Linked DNA regions of Homo sapiens: region 2 is linked to region 1. Evidence: fine-mapped QTL for protein levels in blood plasma. Region 1 holds a variant in brackets. A gene starts in the other region. All regions are shown on their forward strands.

Region 1 (8,000 bases):
TCAGACACCTGCTTTTTTTTTTTTTTTTTTTGAAAAAGAGTCTGGCTCTGTGCAGTGGTGCAATCTCGGCTCACTGCAACCTCTGCCTCCCAGATTCAAGCGATTCTCCTGCCTCAGCCTCCCGAGTAACTGGGATTACAGGCATGCACCACCATGCCCGGCTAATTTTTGTATTTTTAGTAGAGGTGGGGTTTCACCATTTGGCCAGGCTGGTCTCGAACTCCTGACCTCAGGTGATCCGCCCTCCTCGGCCTCCCAAAGTGCTGGGATTATAGGTGTGAAGCCACAGTGCCCAGCCTGACATCAGACACTTGTACCAGGCCCAAGTAGCATGTGGGTCTGCCCTGAGGGAATCTCACACTTGTGCTGATGGGGGAAGACAGCCTCGCAGCAAGGGCACCAGCTCACGTCATCCTGGAAGGTGGGCCGGAAGGCTTCATGGAGAGGGCGATGGTGAAGTGTTTGCCAGATGGACTGAGGTCTAGGGAGCAGATGGGGGTGAAGGCCAAAGGGGAGCAAAGGCTTGGAGGCCCAAACAGGAAGTCCAGGGAGTGCTGGGACCGAAAGGCTGGACTGGGGCCTTATCTAGCACATTAGGGAGCTTGGACTGTGGCTGGGGGACACGAGGGAGCCACTGGGGCTTTGTGCAGGGAGGACCCAGGAAGATCTGCCTATGAGTGAGGGAACTGTGACTGCAGTGGAGGGAAGCCCGCCCACACCTGCTCCTTTTCTCCAGGGCTATGTGTCCTCTCCTGCTCACCTCTGTGTCTCACTGCGGGCCCCTCCTGTCTATCTCTGCTCCCCAGTGTTTGGGGTCCCCAACTGTCTGTCACCCGTGTCTCTCTCAGACTGCGTCTCAGAAACACACACAAGCCCCTCCGCCCTCCTGGTCACATGCTACCCCCTCCCCAGGGCCAGGGCTGGAGGGAACTCTGGGAGCTCAGGGCTCAGCAGAGAGCATGGGGTTAAATGCCACACATGCCACCCAGACCCCTAAGCACTCAGGGCTGGGGAAGCACAGTGAGAGGAGAAACTCAGGGGCTGGGGAGGGAGCCTGGGGGCAGAGGGAGACCCTGAGCAGCAGCGAGGGGGAGGCAAACACTCCAGGCGGAGGGCTGCAGGGGCTAAGGCTTGGAGAGATGAAAGGGGAGCCTGAGCTGCTCTGGGGGCAGGCATGGCCACTGCCACAGGGGATGCTGGGAGGGAGGAGGGAGCATCCGGGCTGCGGATGGGCAGGGCACCAGTCCCGGGGCAGTACAGAACCTGGGGGTGTCTGGGTAGGAGGGAGATTCTGAGCTGTACCTGCAAGGGTCCCTCTCTCTGGCACTGTGGCCCACGTCCAGGGCAGGTGGCCCAGGGCAGGGGATGATGCAGCGGCTGGCCATGGAGTGAGGGGAGCAAGGCCGACCCCCAGGTTTCCAGCTTGGGAGACCCTGAAGGTTCACAAAGAACCCCAGTCAGCCAGCCCTGACTGGTGGGCGCTGGCCCACCCTCTCCATCCCCTGTACATG[G/A]GCCAGCAGCTCCCAGGCAGGAAGGTGTGGGCGGAGGGGAGCTGCAAAGGAGAAGTGGGGCTGGGGGCAGGTGTGGGTGAGCGTGGGTGTATGGTGATGTGGGGGTGGGGGCAGGTGTGGGTGAGCGTGGGTGTACGGTACAGGGATGGGGGACAGGACCCTGGAGGGGAGCCAGGGCAGGGAAGGCCTCTCTGTGAGGCAGAGAGGTGGGGACAAAGCCAGAAGACTGAGCCATAACCCTGCCACCCACATACACGTCCATCCATGTTGGTGCTGGTATTACCCATTAGTGAGGGCTGCAGAGGCCTGACTGAGTACCAGGCAGCTCATTTAGCCCTTGTGCCAGCCATGTGGGCAGACTGAGGCTTGTGGGAACCCAGGAACGGGGAACCTGTCCCTGGAGAGGGTGGCCCAGTGAGGCCAGAGTCGGGAGAATTTACAGGAGTTAGGAGGAGGGGGTCCGCCTGCCCCAGGTCTGCGTTTCACAGCAGAAGCACTGGCTGCTCTGACCCCCAGCAGAGACTCGAGGAGACTGCTCTCAAGGCCAGAGAGAGTGGGAGGGCTGGAGCCCACTGTCAGAGTTCCAGGGTCCCTTACCTTGGCCAGAGAGGGAGGCCAGCTGCTAAGAGCAGCAGACACAAATGAGACACCCACTCATGTGACACAAATGTTTGCTGGGCGCTCCCTATGTGCTGGGCCAGGTGCCGGGACAAAAGGCCTGCGGGATTCGTGTCTGTGTTGTGTGCAGGTGCCTGGCCTCACATGAACCTTTCCACTTGGGCCTCCTAAATGGGGTGGGGGTGGGGGGCTGCAGCAGGCCCTGTGTCGCTACTTGGATGACAAAACAGTTAAGAAGAATTCACAATCAGACCAATGTGGGGAATGTTAGTTTACTCCTCAATGTATTCTTATTTCCCCGTGGCTTTTTTTTTTTTTTTTTTTTTTTTTTGAGACGGAGTCTCTCTCTGTCGCCCAGGCTGGAGTGCAGTGGCGCAATCTCCGCTCACTGCAAGCTCCGCCTCCCAGGTTCACGCCATTCTCCTGCCTCAGCCTCCCGAGTAGCTGGGACTACAGGCGCCCGCCACCATGCCCGGCAAATTTTTTGTATTTTTAGTAGAGACGGGGTTTCACCGTTAGCCAGGATGGTCTTGATCTCCTCACCTCGAGATCTGCCCGCCTCGCCCTCCCAAAGTGATGGGATTACAGACGTGAGCCACCGCGTCCCTTTTTTTTTTGAGACGGAGTCTGGCTCTGTCACCCAGGCTGGAGTGCAGTGGCGTGATCTCGGCTCACTGCAGCCTCTGCCTCCTGGGTTCAAGCCATTCTCCTGCCTCAGCCTCCCACGTAGCTGGGACTACAGGCACGGGCCACCATGCCTGGCTAAATTTTTTTGTATTTTTAGTAGAAATGGGGTTTCACCATGCTAGCCAGGCTGGTCTTGAACTCCTGACCTCAAGTGATCCACCCACCTTGGCCAACACGCCTGGCCTAATTTCTTTTCTTTTTTTTTGAGATGGAGTTTCACTCTTATCGCCCAGGCTGGAATACAGCAGTGCGATAAGCAACACCCAACTCAGCTCACTGCAACACCCAACTCCCAGGTTCAAGCGATTCTCCTGCCTCAGCCTCCTGAGTACGTGGGATTACAGGCACCTGCCACCAGGCCCGGCTAATTTTTTGTATTTTTAGGAGAGGTGGGGTTTCGCCATGTTGGGGAGGCTAGTCTCAAACTCCTGACCTCAGGTGATCTGCCCACTTTGGCCTCCCAAAGTGCTGGGATTACAGGCATGAGCCACCACTCCTGGCCTAATTTCTTTATTCAAGTCTTTTTTTTTTTTTTTTGAGATGGAGTCTCGCTCTGTTGCCCAGGCTGGAATGCAATGGCACGATCTTGGCTCACTGCAACCTCCACCTCCTGGGTTCAAGCGATTCTCGTGCCTCAGCCACCCCAGTAGCTCGGATAACAGGCACGTGCCACCATGCCCAGCTAACTTTTGCATTTTAGTAGAGACGGGGCTTCACCATGTTGGCCAGGCTGGTCTCGAACTCCTGGTCTCAAGCGACCTGCGCGCCTCGGCCTCCCAAAGTGCTGGGATTACAGGCGTGAGCCACTGCACCCGGCCACCATGCTCTACTTTTAATTCACTGAATACTCTTTTTAAAAAGATAATTTGGGCCTGGTGTGGTGGCTCATGCCTGTAATCCCAACACTTTGGGAGACCGAGGCGGGTGGATCACCAGAAGTCAGGAGTTTGAGACCAGCCTGGCCAACATGGTGAAACCCTCTCTCTATAAGAAATTTAAAAAAAAAAAAAAATTAGCCGGGTGTCGTAGCTGGCGCCTGTAATCCCAGCTACTTGGGAGGCTGAGGCAGGAAGAATTGTTTGAACCCGGAAGCCAGAGGTTACAGTGAGCTGAGGTCGTGCCACTGCACTCCAGCCTGGCTGACAGAGCGAGACCCCATCTCAGAAAAAAAAAAAATAATAATAAAATAACAAGATAGTTTGGGGTCTTCAGAGAGAAGGGGGTTTCTGTCGATTTTTGTGCCCCAATTCTCCTGAAGACACCCTCACAAGGATCTGATGCAGGTACTATTAGGACATTTTCCAGATGAGAAAACAGAGGCTTTAAGGGGCAAGGGCCCTCTCAAGATGAGCCAGCAGATGGGAGGGGCCTGCAGGGGGTCTGTGTCCACCTGACTGTGAAGCGTGGCCTGGGCCCTACATGCTTCAGGGACGGGGTTGGGGAAAGTGAGAGCACTCTGGGGATGGGACAAGCACAGTGTCATGGGGAGCAGTCCTTGGGGACAGAGAGGCCCAGTCCCCCAGATCTGGATGTGAAACTGCTCTGGGGCCTGGGATGCACTCTGTACTTCAAAATCAGTTTTCGTTGTAATTATGCAGTAGTACCTGAACACGTGCTCAGGAAAAACCTGCAAACAATACAGAAGTCTATGAGTGACAAAGGGCGTTTCCCCACGGTCCCCAGAGGGAGTCTCTGTTTTCCCTTGGGAGCCTTTCTTCACTGCCTGGTTCTGTGCCTTTGCCCCCTCGTGTAGGTGTACACACAAACAGCTTTTCCCGTGTTCCAGGAATGGGGTCAGCAGTGGAGATGGCTCTGCTGGCTGGGTTGGGCCTGCAGGGCTTCGAGTCAGCTCTCTTGGCTCCATTTTGTCTCATGACAGCGCCAGGACCACCCCTTGTGGTTATTTCCTTTCCCTTCTCCTGTATTTAAAAGCCCCCACAAACAAGTACAATGCTACAGAGTACCTCTTGCTGGGGCCAGGGGAAAGGATGCAGTGCCGTGGGCCTCGGTTCATTGGGAGAGGGCAGAGTGGCCACGGAATCAGCACAAAGTCCTGGCGAGTCCAGAGCAGTGTGACCCAGAGGCAGAGGCCTGGGAGTCCCCAGATCCCGTTCCTCCCCGAACCCACACCAGGGGAGGGCAGGTCACGCCCTTCCATGAAGCAGTCACAAATCCTTGCCTGGGTCTTCATGGGCTGGAGCTGCCTGTCATCCAGCCCGCCACTCCATGCACACGTGCGCACACACGCGCGCTCCTGCACTCCACAGGGTCTGGCCAGGGCACCCCAGCCACTCTCAGCATGGCCCCGGGATAGAGGACATGGGCCCTCCATGTGAGACTAGAGGGCAGACCACAGCCCTTTAGCCACAGGGAGCAAAGCCCCCACCTCTTGGGGGCCAGGTGTGTGAAGTAGAGGGAGGCTGTAAGGCCAGGGTAGGCAAGGGGGAGAGGAACGGGGGCCCCCAGGGCCAACCTCCCAGGCCTTATTCAGGGTACCACGCAGGAAGGCCCTTGTGAACGCAGAGGCCGACCCCTGCGCGGATGCCTCCCCGTCACTCGCCACTCACTCACTTAGCACCTACCAGGCACCAGGAGCTGTTTTGGGTTCTGGGGAAATAGCAGGGAAGCAGAGAGGAAACCCAAATGGGACACAACGTAGTGGGTGGGGAGGTAAGGAGTGCTGGGGAGAAAAAGTCAGAAGGGCAGGGTGCTCGAGGGTTATGGGTGCAATTTCAAACAGGGGAGTCAGAGAAGGCCTGGTGGATGGTGACCTCGGAACAGAGGACAGGGTGGAGCGATCCCCAAGGATGTCTGGGGGAAGCAGAGAAGGCCCAGTGACCAGGAAAAGGGCTGTGCGCAAAGCATCTCCCTACCCGGCCGTCTCCTCCCTCAGCCCTGTGTGGGGCTAGCACGACTGGTCCCACTTTACAAAGAGGGAAAGCAGGCTAGAGTAAAGGGGCCCGCCAGGCAGCCCCTGAGCCTGCCACACTACACACATCAGTGGGGTCCTCTTCCCGTGTGCGGACAGCGGCAGGGAGAGGGGGTGGGGGTGGGGGTGAGGCCCAGGGGTCTGTGTCCTCACAGGGAGGCTGGCCAAGCATATTGGAGGAGGAGGGCTGGGGGACCCCTTGGGCCTGGCCAGCTCGCAGGGGCCCCAAGTTCGGCTGGCATACCCTTTGATGGAAGAGGGCGGTCCAGGGAAGGCTGCCTCCTGTGCAGGTCCGGGGCTCTGGGAAGTACCTACCCACTCTCCCCAGGGAGCTGCCCTCAGCAGCCCCCAGTCCACAGCATCCCATACTCAGGTGGGACCCGCAGACTTAGGGTACACAGCCTGGCAGCCCACCCCACTGTCTCCCTCAGCCCCCAAGTGTGAGACATTCTTTCACAGAGACTCTCTGCCTGTGTCCTTCTGACCCCAGGGTACACTGGAGGGGAGGGGCTAAGCCAACAGAACCTTCCAGAAAACGTCCCTTTGTGCTCGAGCCCTGCCAGCAGGCCTGGCCCAGCACCCCTGATGCGTGTGGGTTGGGGGCAACTGTAACAGGGCCTTGTCTCAAGAACCCCACGGCTCTCCTCGCCCACCAGCCTGCCAGCCCGTACCGAGCCACTGTCTGTAGAGGGTGGAAGGGCTGGCATGGAGTCAGGCTCTTCAGTTTCTCTCCAAGCCTCACAAGACCTGAAAAGGGGGGCAGGCAGTGGGGCTTGGAGAGGGAAGTGGGCTGCCCCAAGTCACACTGCAGATCAGCCACAGACCCCAAGTCGGTGGGACTCGGAGGCTGCTCCTGTTCCCACTGCACCACTTCCCCTCTGCAGCTGGGCTGCTCCTGCCTCTGCTCACCGGGGGTGCAGGAGACACGGGGCCCAGGCTGCAGAGCCCCTCCTTGCTAGGAAGGTCCTGCCTCCTTGGTAGGGATGGGAAACACCATCAGATTGAGGCCAGGACACTCGGGCCTGGACCACTGGCCATGGAGAACGTGAACTCCCTGGGGTCCCAAGGACTGCTCACAGCCAGGTGGAATGAGGGGGACAAATGAGTGTGTGACTCCGAGTAAGCTCTACTCCTCTAAGAGTGGGGCCCAAACACCACCTTCCTTCCAGCTTATAAGAGCACGGACGGGGCAGCTTCCAGGCCCAGCTGAAGAGGCGCCGCTTCCAGTAGCCTTCGCCCCCCCATTCCCAGCCTGTAGGCCTAGGGGGTTCTTGCCCGCCTTCAACATCCTGCAATGACCACGTCATGACCATGGCCACCCTGAGGCATCTGACATTTGTTTAAAGCTTTATGTTCAAAATAATGGGCTTGAGGCCAGCAATTTGAGACCAGCCTGGGCAGCATAGCAAGACCCCATCTCTAAATAAATACATAAAATAGTGGCTTCTTCATTGCCAGTCCTCAACTAGCTAGGAAGAAAGGCATCGGTTAGCCTGGCGCCACGCTACAGCTGAGGAACTGAGGCTTGCCGAGGGTGAGTGACCTGCCTGAGGTCACGCCACCAAGCAAGCAGCCAAGCCCAGCCTCTCCCATCTCCCTCCACCTTACCTCAGTACCAAGCCCCAATTCCGGCACACACTGATCTTCCATTACTTCCCTCAGCCAAACTGTCTCCTGGACAATGTCACTGGGTCTCCAGATGGCGTGAAGCAACCCCACTCTCTGGCCACCCATCCCCCGCCTTCCAGGGACAGCAGGTCTGAGGGCACCTGCCTGCCATTTAAGTGTGGCTCAGCTCTGCTGTGAGGCAGGGGCAGGCCAGCCCCCAACTCTAGAGGGGAGGCCTCCTGGTTCCAGGGCCCCTGCCAAGCTCAGCTGGGAGCTGGCGGCAGTGACAGCACTGTGTTCCCCAGTGCTTGGAAGGTTCCCAGACTCTTGGCTGGAGAATGCGATGCCACTTCTCTTGTTAAATGGTACCAGGTGGCAAGGAAAATGTGGCACAGGGACCTGAGAGAGGTGCCCCATGCGGGCATGGGGGGGAGGGGGTGTGGGGGAAGGCCTCTCCTCCTGGTCGCCAGCAAAAAGTGACATCCCAGATCAGGCAGGCTGCATCCACACCGCCTTCCTCCCCTGCTTGGACACCCATTCCATCAGCCCCGCCAAAGACCTACTCTACCCTCCAGTTACCCTGCAAAGACACGCATTCTGGCCAAGGACAGAAGGGCCAAAGACAAGGTCACTCTCTGGGAAGGCTG
Region 2 (8,744 bases), not on the chromosome of region 1:
GGAGGTAGGGTTCTGTTAGAGACCTCAGAGGATCTATCTTCTCTCTGGTAAAGTCCTTTAGAAATCTGCACTTGTACATTTCCCCCATTTTTTAATGCTTTTGGGACTGGGATGGAGGGAAGATAAACCACTAAGGCCAGACATGGAGGAGGGCAAACCCAAGATCACCCGATGGACCTCTGGGAGAAAGACACTCACCTTGATGTGGTACACTAAGCGCCAGAAACTGGAGTCTGAGGATCGGTATCGTCCATCAGGGTAGAGCTGCCACATGATAGGCAGCAGGCTTGGGCCTATCTGGGTGGGGGTCATAGGCCTCCCCAGGACGACGTCTTCCCGACGCAAGAGCACCCGTAACTGTAACCTATCCTTTATCTGAGGAGAAGAAAAGGACAGGGCATACTTTCAGGTTCCGCTTGCCAGGGCTTCTCCAGGCGCAGAAAACCGGAATCCCTCCTGCCAGCCATCCACCCATCTGGGCAGGGGTCCGAGTGTGAAATGATGGTCATCACTGTTCCCTGAAGCTCACTTCCTTAGGCCATGCATGCTCCTCTCAGGGACTCTGGCTGGGCCAGGACCACCAGCACACACACGTGTCTAGCCACCCAGACAGGGCCATGAAAGGCACACTTTTTTCTGGCGGGTTGCAGCGGCTCACACTTGTAATTCCAGTGCTTTGGAAGGCAGAGGCAGGAGGATCGCTTGAGGCCAGGAGTTTAAGACCAGCCTGGGTCACAGAGCGAGACCCTGTATCTACAGGAAAAAAAAAAAACAACAAAGAAAGAAAGAGAGAAAAAGAATACTGGCCTTTTCAATGATGTGAGGCAAAATCTGTCCCACAGTTTGCTAGTGGGTTATTTTTTGTGGAGCATGTATCATGATTTTATGAAAAACTGTCTGGTTCGTGGTTTTGGTGTCACGTTGAAGAAGAGATTTCTCAGAGATTTAAAAAAAGAAATCCACTGAATCTTCAAATTATTTCTTCAAATTTTGATTTTAAAAAAGTAAGTATTTAACTTGATTTTTAAAGTAAAAACATATTTAAAAAATTGAAATGCCAATAAAAATGCAGATTTTGTGGTGGTTAAGAGCCTAGAATTCCAACCCCATTACCTACTAGCAATCTTACCTCGGACAAATGTACATTTTTGTGCCTCAGTTTCCCATCTGTAGAGACACAGTCAACACTCAATAATTTTTGATTGCTACTGGACATACGTGTTCTAATATATTTTTTAATTTTTATGCTTTCTTCAGTGTATGTTTGGAGAGAGTTTGAACATTTTTTGACTCTTTTTCATTGAGTAAATCCAAATACTTGTAAAAGACTTATCTATTTCTTTAACAAAAACTTAACATGGATTAAGGACCCATCTTAAGGCATCACACATTAAAAAAGTCAATATTGATTCAATACCGGCGCTTATACTACGACATCACTTGTTAAATTTGTTTTCTAAATAAAGCCCAGAGGTAGTGGAAAATACTTCACACTCTAGGCCAGTGTTTGCTATGCCTGGTTGACCCTAAACTGTTGAGGGTTCTTTTTAAAAATACAGATTTCTGGGACCCACCTGAGATGATTCCGATAATCGGCCATATGGATGAGTCACTTAGAGATACCCATTTTTAAGGATTAGGACCCCGAAGCCCAGAAAATGCCTGCTGTAGTCAACATTATAGTCACACTCCACAGGCACTGGGTCCACCCCTTTGACCGACATTCCTTTGCGGTTTTCCCACCCTTCTTCCCTGCCTGGAGAACTCCTATTCATCCTCCAGAGCCCGGCTCAAAGTGGCTTCATCTGTGGGGATCCTCCCTGCCCCATAGTGAGTGCTCCTTGAGTCCTCGCCCTTCCTAGGGCATCCCAAGCTCCCAGGGGCTGCCCCTGCTGCCTCGCCATCCGCTCCAAAGCTGGCTGTACCTCGATGGTTAAGGGCAGCCAGGCGTGCTGCTTCTCGTCCAAATACACGAACTTCTCCCAGGCCCACAGGCGGTCCGGGTGGTCGGTGACTGCCTCCCCGAGTGTCGGGCACTCGGCCATGGCGTCCTCGGGCCGCCTAAGAAGCAAGAGCCAGAGCCTCTCAAGGCCGCTCGCTGGTCCCTGGGATGTGGGGCCGACCCTTTATATCCGGGCAGCATGCGGCCGCCACCAAGCGGCGGGGCGGGAGGACGGCCTTGGGGCGGGACCCCGGGTCGGGAGAACGACCTTGGGGCGGGGCGTAAGGCAGGATGGGGCGGGGTTTGTGGGGGTCTTGGTGGCAAGTGAGGGTCCCGCGCAGGCGCTACGTCCCGGCCTGACTTGCTCCCTGGAACGGTGGCAGCTCCTGGGAACGCAGACCCGGCCCCAGCTGGCCCGCGCCTTCCTCGAGGCCCCGGCCAGCAGCGACACCGACCGCCGCCCTCTGCTGCTGCTGGAGAGGCACCGGGGTGACCTTGGCCCTTTCTTCTTCTGGAAGACCCCCCCGCTTCCCTCGGCTGCCGGACCGGGACTCTGGGCCTCTGCTGGGAACTCACAGTCGACACCAGGATGCCCAGAGCCAGGACCCACTCCTCATCTTATGGGATCAGAAGAGACCCGCGCGGGCCTGAGTTAGGCCTGGGCTTTCCCGGGTTCCCTGGATCTCCACCAGCCTGTGCCTTTGAGTGTCAGAGTACGTTTTTTGGCAAAGGACAACTCCTGACGCTCCCTCTCCCTCTTCCATACACAAAGCATGCGTTTTCCACAGGTCTGATGTGCTGTGGACATCTAATAGCTATTACAAAATGGAGAATCATGGGTTTTTGCCCTTGGGCTTTGAGTTTACTAGTGAAAGCATAGTTCGAAATGAATACTTAAAAAGAAATCCCTCCTTCCACCCTAAGATCAATGGATTTGAAAAGTGCCTGGTTTATATGATCAAAACCACCCCTCTGTAAATTACAAGCAATAAGGAAAACAATTTCACTTTATTTTGCAGTAACGCATTCCCACTAAGGCAATTAAGAAAGTCATGCACAATGAAAAACATGTGAAACCAGCTCCAGCCTGGTTCAAACATCACCATGGGATGGAGTTTGGTGTCTCATCTTCCAGCTCTTTCCCAGTTCTCTGACCAGGCACTAAGAACATAATTTGTGATCCTTTGAAATATCACCAAAGTGGAAATTAAGAGATCTGATGAGGACATCTGATTCACCTGGCAGCTGGGTATCTGCCTCTTTGCCTATCCAGAGAGCCTAATTCCCAAGAAGGGGCTGAGAGGGCCTAAGGTAGTCGAGACATAATGGGATTTACCAGGAACACAACATAGAAGAGAAAAGCCAAGGGAAGTTGGGGGTGGAGTGAGGGCCCTTGAGCTCAGCAAACCTCTTTTCCACTGTAGCCCTTAGTGGTGTTAATATTTAATATGCAAACTTAAAGGTTTCATGCTGATTTTCCTGTGAATGGCTCTTGACTCCAGACCTAGATAGCCACAGAGCAAGATGACAAGCTCGCTAATAAGCTCTGTTGGGGAGGTCTCAGCCCAGGCCAGAGCTGTGAAGTGAGAAATAAGTCCAGTTTAAATAGTGCTGCTGGGATGGACTTTTGTGGCCAGGGAAGGGGTACCCAGGAGCCAGTGTGGCCACTGACCCAGCCTCATCAATGGCCCTAGGATCCAGAATGCCACAAACAATGGAGCAAGAATCAGATCTGTGTGTCTGGGTAAGCAGAATGTTCTGAGAATATAATTCCTTTTTCCTTCTTTTGTAAGAACAATTTATTTCTTCAGTTTTGCATGAGGGCTTCTTAATATTGAGCAAGAATATACATCATTATTGCGTGAGATTTAGAAAATTATTTGAGAGAGGGTTCCAATAAATGAAAATGAATTAAGGATGTCTGTGGAGTTCATTGGGCAACTTATAGAGCCCTTGAGCTTTTTTAAGTGAACATTCCACAAGAGGGGAAACAGTAGCTATTGCATAGTCTCAGAGCTGTCTCTGAGCCTCCGTGGCATGTTATCTGCCCCATCTAAGGGTTATAAAGGCCATAAGCCTAGCTTTAGAATTTTATGTTCCTTTCCAAGTCTTTGTTAGTCTGATTTCCCTGAGGATAAGCAAATGGATGTTTCACACAGAAAGCTACAGGAAGCAATCATTTTGACAGAATCCTTAATGGATGCGTTCATGTCCTGATTTAGATCTAGTTTTGCCTTTACCACGATCACCTGTGAACTTGACAAATCCTTTGCAACTTGGCCTCAGTGCCATAGTTTTGTAATGAATGGGGCAAAATACCTGCTCTCTAAGCTTGTTTCTAACTCAGTAGGCCCCAATCCTCCTATAACATTGCCTAGTGGGAGGAGGGAATAGTTAAGAAAAGAGATGGACAAAATATATGATGTTAGTTCAGGAATGCCTACAGTTTTTGGTACAGTGGCTGTAGATCAAGGACCCCAGTGGAATTCATGGGAGCCATTCTTCTTGTTTGGGTTCCAAAGAAGGGGTTGAGGAGTAGTCAAGGCCATCAGGATGACCTTGACTCAAAGTGTTGTCCCTGGACCAGCTACAGTAGCATCACCTGGAGCTCGTAAGAATGACAGAATCTGGAGCCTCCCCCAAGACTACTGAGTCAGAATCTGTATTGGAACAAGACCCCCAGGTGATTCACGGGCATGGTAAATGTTGGGCTATATGGAGGGAGGGTCAAGAGGGAGAGATAGGGGGTGTCTGATTCAACACACCAGTGCCCTCCAGATTTCTCCAACTATGACACAGGACTTATATCGGTGTTTGTGTATCATTTACTTCCAGGCTATCTTATTTTCTGCCAAAATCACCTCTAATATATAGAGTGTTTTCCTCTTAAAAGAAAATCCTAGTAACCAAGGTCATCCTCACCAACCCTGGGGTCCTTGATTGTCAATGATTATAGCAAGCTGGAAAGAGCCTATTTAGAGGCTACTTAGGTGTTTAGGCCTTTGGGCCCTATGATGACTGAGCCTAAACCACTAAGAATCACCTGGGAAGCTTTAATGAAACACCTGCGCCTGGATCCCACTCCAAACCAATTACATCAGAATCTCCGAGATTGAGGCTTGAGAAAAGTAGGTGATGCTAACACGTAGGCAGGGTTAAGTACAATTTCTCTAAGATCTGAGTGACTGTTTTTGACGTGTGCACAGATTTATAAATCTAAATAACTACGAAAATGTCAAAGCTATTCTTTCTACCATCAATTCTCATTGTAAACTTCACCCCAACTCCATATTTTACTTCTTTCCCTTTGCCCTACTTTGCTGCTTCCAATCCTTCGTGGTCAGGGATCCATAGCCCTAAGTTTATTGGAATCATAAGGGTCTGAGATCTTGCTAATGTGTAAAACACAGAATCTGTGATATATATGTAGCTATTAAGGCATCCATGCCTGGAGTGTTTTGTTTGTTTGTTTGTTTTTTGAGACAGAGTTTCCCTCTTGTTGCCCAGGCTGGAATGCAATGGTGTGATCTTGGCTCACTGCGACCTCCACCTCCTGGGTTCAAGCGATTCTCCTGCTTCTGCCTCCCGAGTAGCTGGGATTACAGGTATGCGCCACCACGCCTGTCTAATTTTGTATTTTTAGTAGAAATGGGGTTTCTTCATGTTGGTCAGGCTGGTCTTGAACTCCTGACCTCAGGTGATCCTCCCACCTCGGCCTTCCAAAGTGCTGGGATTACAGGCATGAGCCACCGTGCCCAGCCTGTTTTTTTTTTTGTTTTTTTTTTTTTTTTTTTAGTTCCTAGGTCTGGGCCATAGTTGAAATAATTAAGGCTGCTGATCAAGTGAGTTCAGGGTACAAAAGATGTTGTAGCCTTTACTCATAAGGGATGAAATGGTATCTCTAAATTAATGGAGAATCTGAGACAAGGATATTTCAAGTAGAAATTAGGGACTGATCCTACTCTGCCCACTACATAGCTATCATCTCTCTCTTTAAAATTAACAGTTCTAAGGAACTTAAAGCTTCTCCAACTTTAAGGTGTATATGGAGATTTTATTTAAATACAGATTCTAATATGGTAGGGTTGAGGCGATTCTCAAGATTCTGAATTTGTAACATATTCATATCCTCGGAGTTGATACAGGTACTAATGGTCTATAAATCACCTCTGGGTGGCAAGGACCTATACTAACCCCCATGCTACCCTTGATACCCACACAAAACACAAATGAAAAACACAACTCACAACCCCTACTCAAAATGCAGCGAATAGTTGATTCTGCCAAGCTAGCGAGTGACCAAGATGTGATAGAATTGCACTGGACACTTTGAGCTACAACTGTGGTTGCCATTTGCCAGAGGCAAGTTAAAATTGACCTACATTTGTACTGGAAACATTTCTCAATCCTGGGATTACTCCACACCTTGGGTGTTACTGTCCTACTGATGCTATGATGCCTACAGCTTTGTTTTTGTTTTTCTGTTTTGTTCAAAAATGTTTTAGCTATTCAGACCTTTTGTGGTTCCATATGAATTTTAGGATTATTTTTTCTGTTAATGTGAAAGTGTTGTTGGAATTTTGGTAGGGATTGCGTTGAATATGTAGGTTGCTTTGAGTGGGATGAACATTTTAATAATTTTAATTCCTTCAATCTATGAACATGAGATATTGTTCCATTCGTTTGTGTCTTCTTCAGTTTCTGTCATGGGTATTTTGTAGTTTTGCGTGTTCAGATCTTTCACCTCATTGCTTACATTTATTCCTAAGTATTTTATTATTTTTTGTAGCTATTGTGAATGGGATTTTTAAAATTTCTTTTTCACATAGCTCATTATTAGTGTATAGAAATGTTACTGATTTTTGTATGTTGGTTTTTGTATCCTGCAGTTTTACTGAATTCATTTATCAGTTCGAACAGCTTTTGGATGGAATCTTTAGGAGTTTTCTATACATACAAGATCATGTCCTCTACAAACCGAGACAATTTAACTTCTTCCTTTTCATTTGGATGCCTTTTCTTTCTTTTACCTGTTGCTCTGATTAGGATTTCCAGTTCTGTGCTGATTAGAAGCAGTGAGAGTGAGCATCCTTCTCTTGTTCCTGATCTTAGAGAAAAAGCCTTAAACTTTTTACTATTCAGTATGACATTAGCTGTGGACTTGTCATATATGCTTCATTGTACTGAGGTACATTCCTTCTAGACCTAATTTGTCGAGAGTTTTTACCTTGAAAGGATATTCAGTTTTGTCAAATGCCTTTTCTGCATCTATTGAGATGATCATATGGTTTTTGTCCTTCATTCTGTTAATGTGATGTGTTACTTTTACTGGTTTGTGCACGTTGAACTATCCTTGTATCCCTGGGATAAATATCATTTGATAATGATGAATGATCCTTTTGATGTGCTGTTGAATTCAGTTTGCGAGTATTTTGTTGAGGATTTTTACATCTATATTCATCAGGGATATTGGCCTGTAATATATTTTTTTCTTGCAGTGTCCTTGTCTGACTTTAGTATCAGGGTAATGCTGGCCTTATACAATAAATTTGGAAGTATTCCTTCTTCTGCAATTTTTTGGAGCACTTGGGAAGGGTTGGTATTAGTTCTTTAAATGTTTGGTAGAATTCAGCAGTGAAGCATCAGGTTGTGGGGCTTTTCTTTGATGGGAGACTTTTTATTACTGATTCAATCTTCTCACTTGTTATTGCTCTGTTCAGATTTTTTGTTTCTTCATGATTCAGTCTTACTAGGTTATATATGTCTAGGAGTTCGTCCATTTCTTCTAGTTTATCCAATTTGTTGGCACAACATTATTCATAGCAGGCTCTTATGAACCTTTATATTTCTGTGGTATCAGTTGTAATGTTTCATCTTTCATTTCTGATTTTGTTTATTTAGGTCTTCTCTTTTTAGTCTAACTAAAGCTCTATTGATTTTGCTCTTTTCAAAACATCAACTCCTAGTTTCCTTGATCTTTTCTACTGTTTTTCTAGTATATTTCATTTATCTCTGCTCTGATCTTTATTATTTCCATTCTTGTGCTAATTTAAACCTTAATTTCTTCTTCTTTTTCCAGTTTGTGGAGGTATGATGTTAGGTTGTTTATTTAAGATCCTTCTTTTTTGATGTAGGCATTTATTGCTATAAACTTCCATCTTAGAACTGCTTTTGCTACATCTCATATGTTTTGGTATGTTGTGTTTCCACTTTCATTTGTTTCAAAATATTTTTAAATTTTCCTTGTAATTTCTTCTTCAACCACTGGTTGTTTAGGAGCATGTTGTTTAATTTCCACATACTTGTGAATTTTCAAAATTCCTCCTATTGATTTCTAGTTTCATGCCATTGTGATTGGAAAAGATACCTGATGTGATTTCAATTTTTTTAAATTTGTTAACACTTGTTTTGTGGCCTAACATATAATCTATCTTATAGAAGGTTCTCTGTGCTCTTGAGAATATATTCTGCTTATGTTGTATAGAATGTTCTGTATATGTCTGTTAGGTCCATTTTGTCTAAAGTGTAGCTCAAGTTCAATATTTCTGTATTGATTTTCTCTCTGGATGATCTCTCCATTGTTGAAAGTGGAGGTATTAAGTTCCCTTACTATTATTGTATTGCAGTCTATCTCTCTCTTCAGGTCTATTAATATTTGCATTATATATTTAGATGCTCTGAGGTTGAGGGTATATACATTTGTAATTATTTTATCTTCTTGATGAATTGACTCATTTATCATTATATAATGACCTTTGTCTCTTTTTATAGTTTTTAACTTAGTCTCTTTTTTTATGTAGTC

Direction of the effects. Alleles are on the strand shown, and positions count from the first base shown. The strength of an association depends on the size of the effect and on how common the allele is.
For the plasma level of the protein whose gene starts at base 2,104 in region 2, A is the low allele of the variant in region 1 and G is the other (weak association).

What was found. PIP is the chance, under the fine-mapping model, that this variant and not a neighbour inherited with it causes the effect. Protein levels are from antibody-based Olink assays in UK Biobank. Linkage for the fine-mapping came from a reference panel and not from the study's own genotypes, which makes the PIPs less certain.
Region 2: it holds the start of TCL1A, and the variant in region 1 is fine-mapped to the plasma level of the TCL1A protein (UK Biobank, PIP above 0.99).

What each region holds. Positions count from the first base shown.
Region 1 is chr22:41,927,502-41,935,501 of GRCh38, forward strand. It overlaps a transcript of CENPM not described here. Among named protein-coding and RNA genes, the nearest start is that of TNFRSF13C, 4.7 kb to the left of the region's middle. RefSeq lists enhancers at 1,091-1,160, 1,304-1,914, 1,915-2,524, 5,068-5,575. The variant G/A (reference allele first, on the strand shown) is at 1,512.
Region 2 is chr14:95,712,022-95,720,765 of GRCh38, forward strand. It overlaps TCL1A (TCL1 family AKT coactivator A), which reads right to left and starts at 2,104. Exons shown (of 4, transcript NM_021966.3): 1 at 1,926-2,104; 2 at 199-375. The coding sequence starts at 2,045. LOC107984703 (a long non-coding RNA gene) reads left to right here and starts at 3,462. Exons shown (of 3, transcript NR_148060.1): 1 at 3,462-3,686; 2 at 5,450-5,547. RefSeq lists enhancers at 165-264, 305-464, 505-724, 1,839-1,888 and a silencer at 2,119-2,358.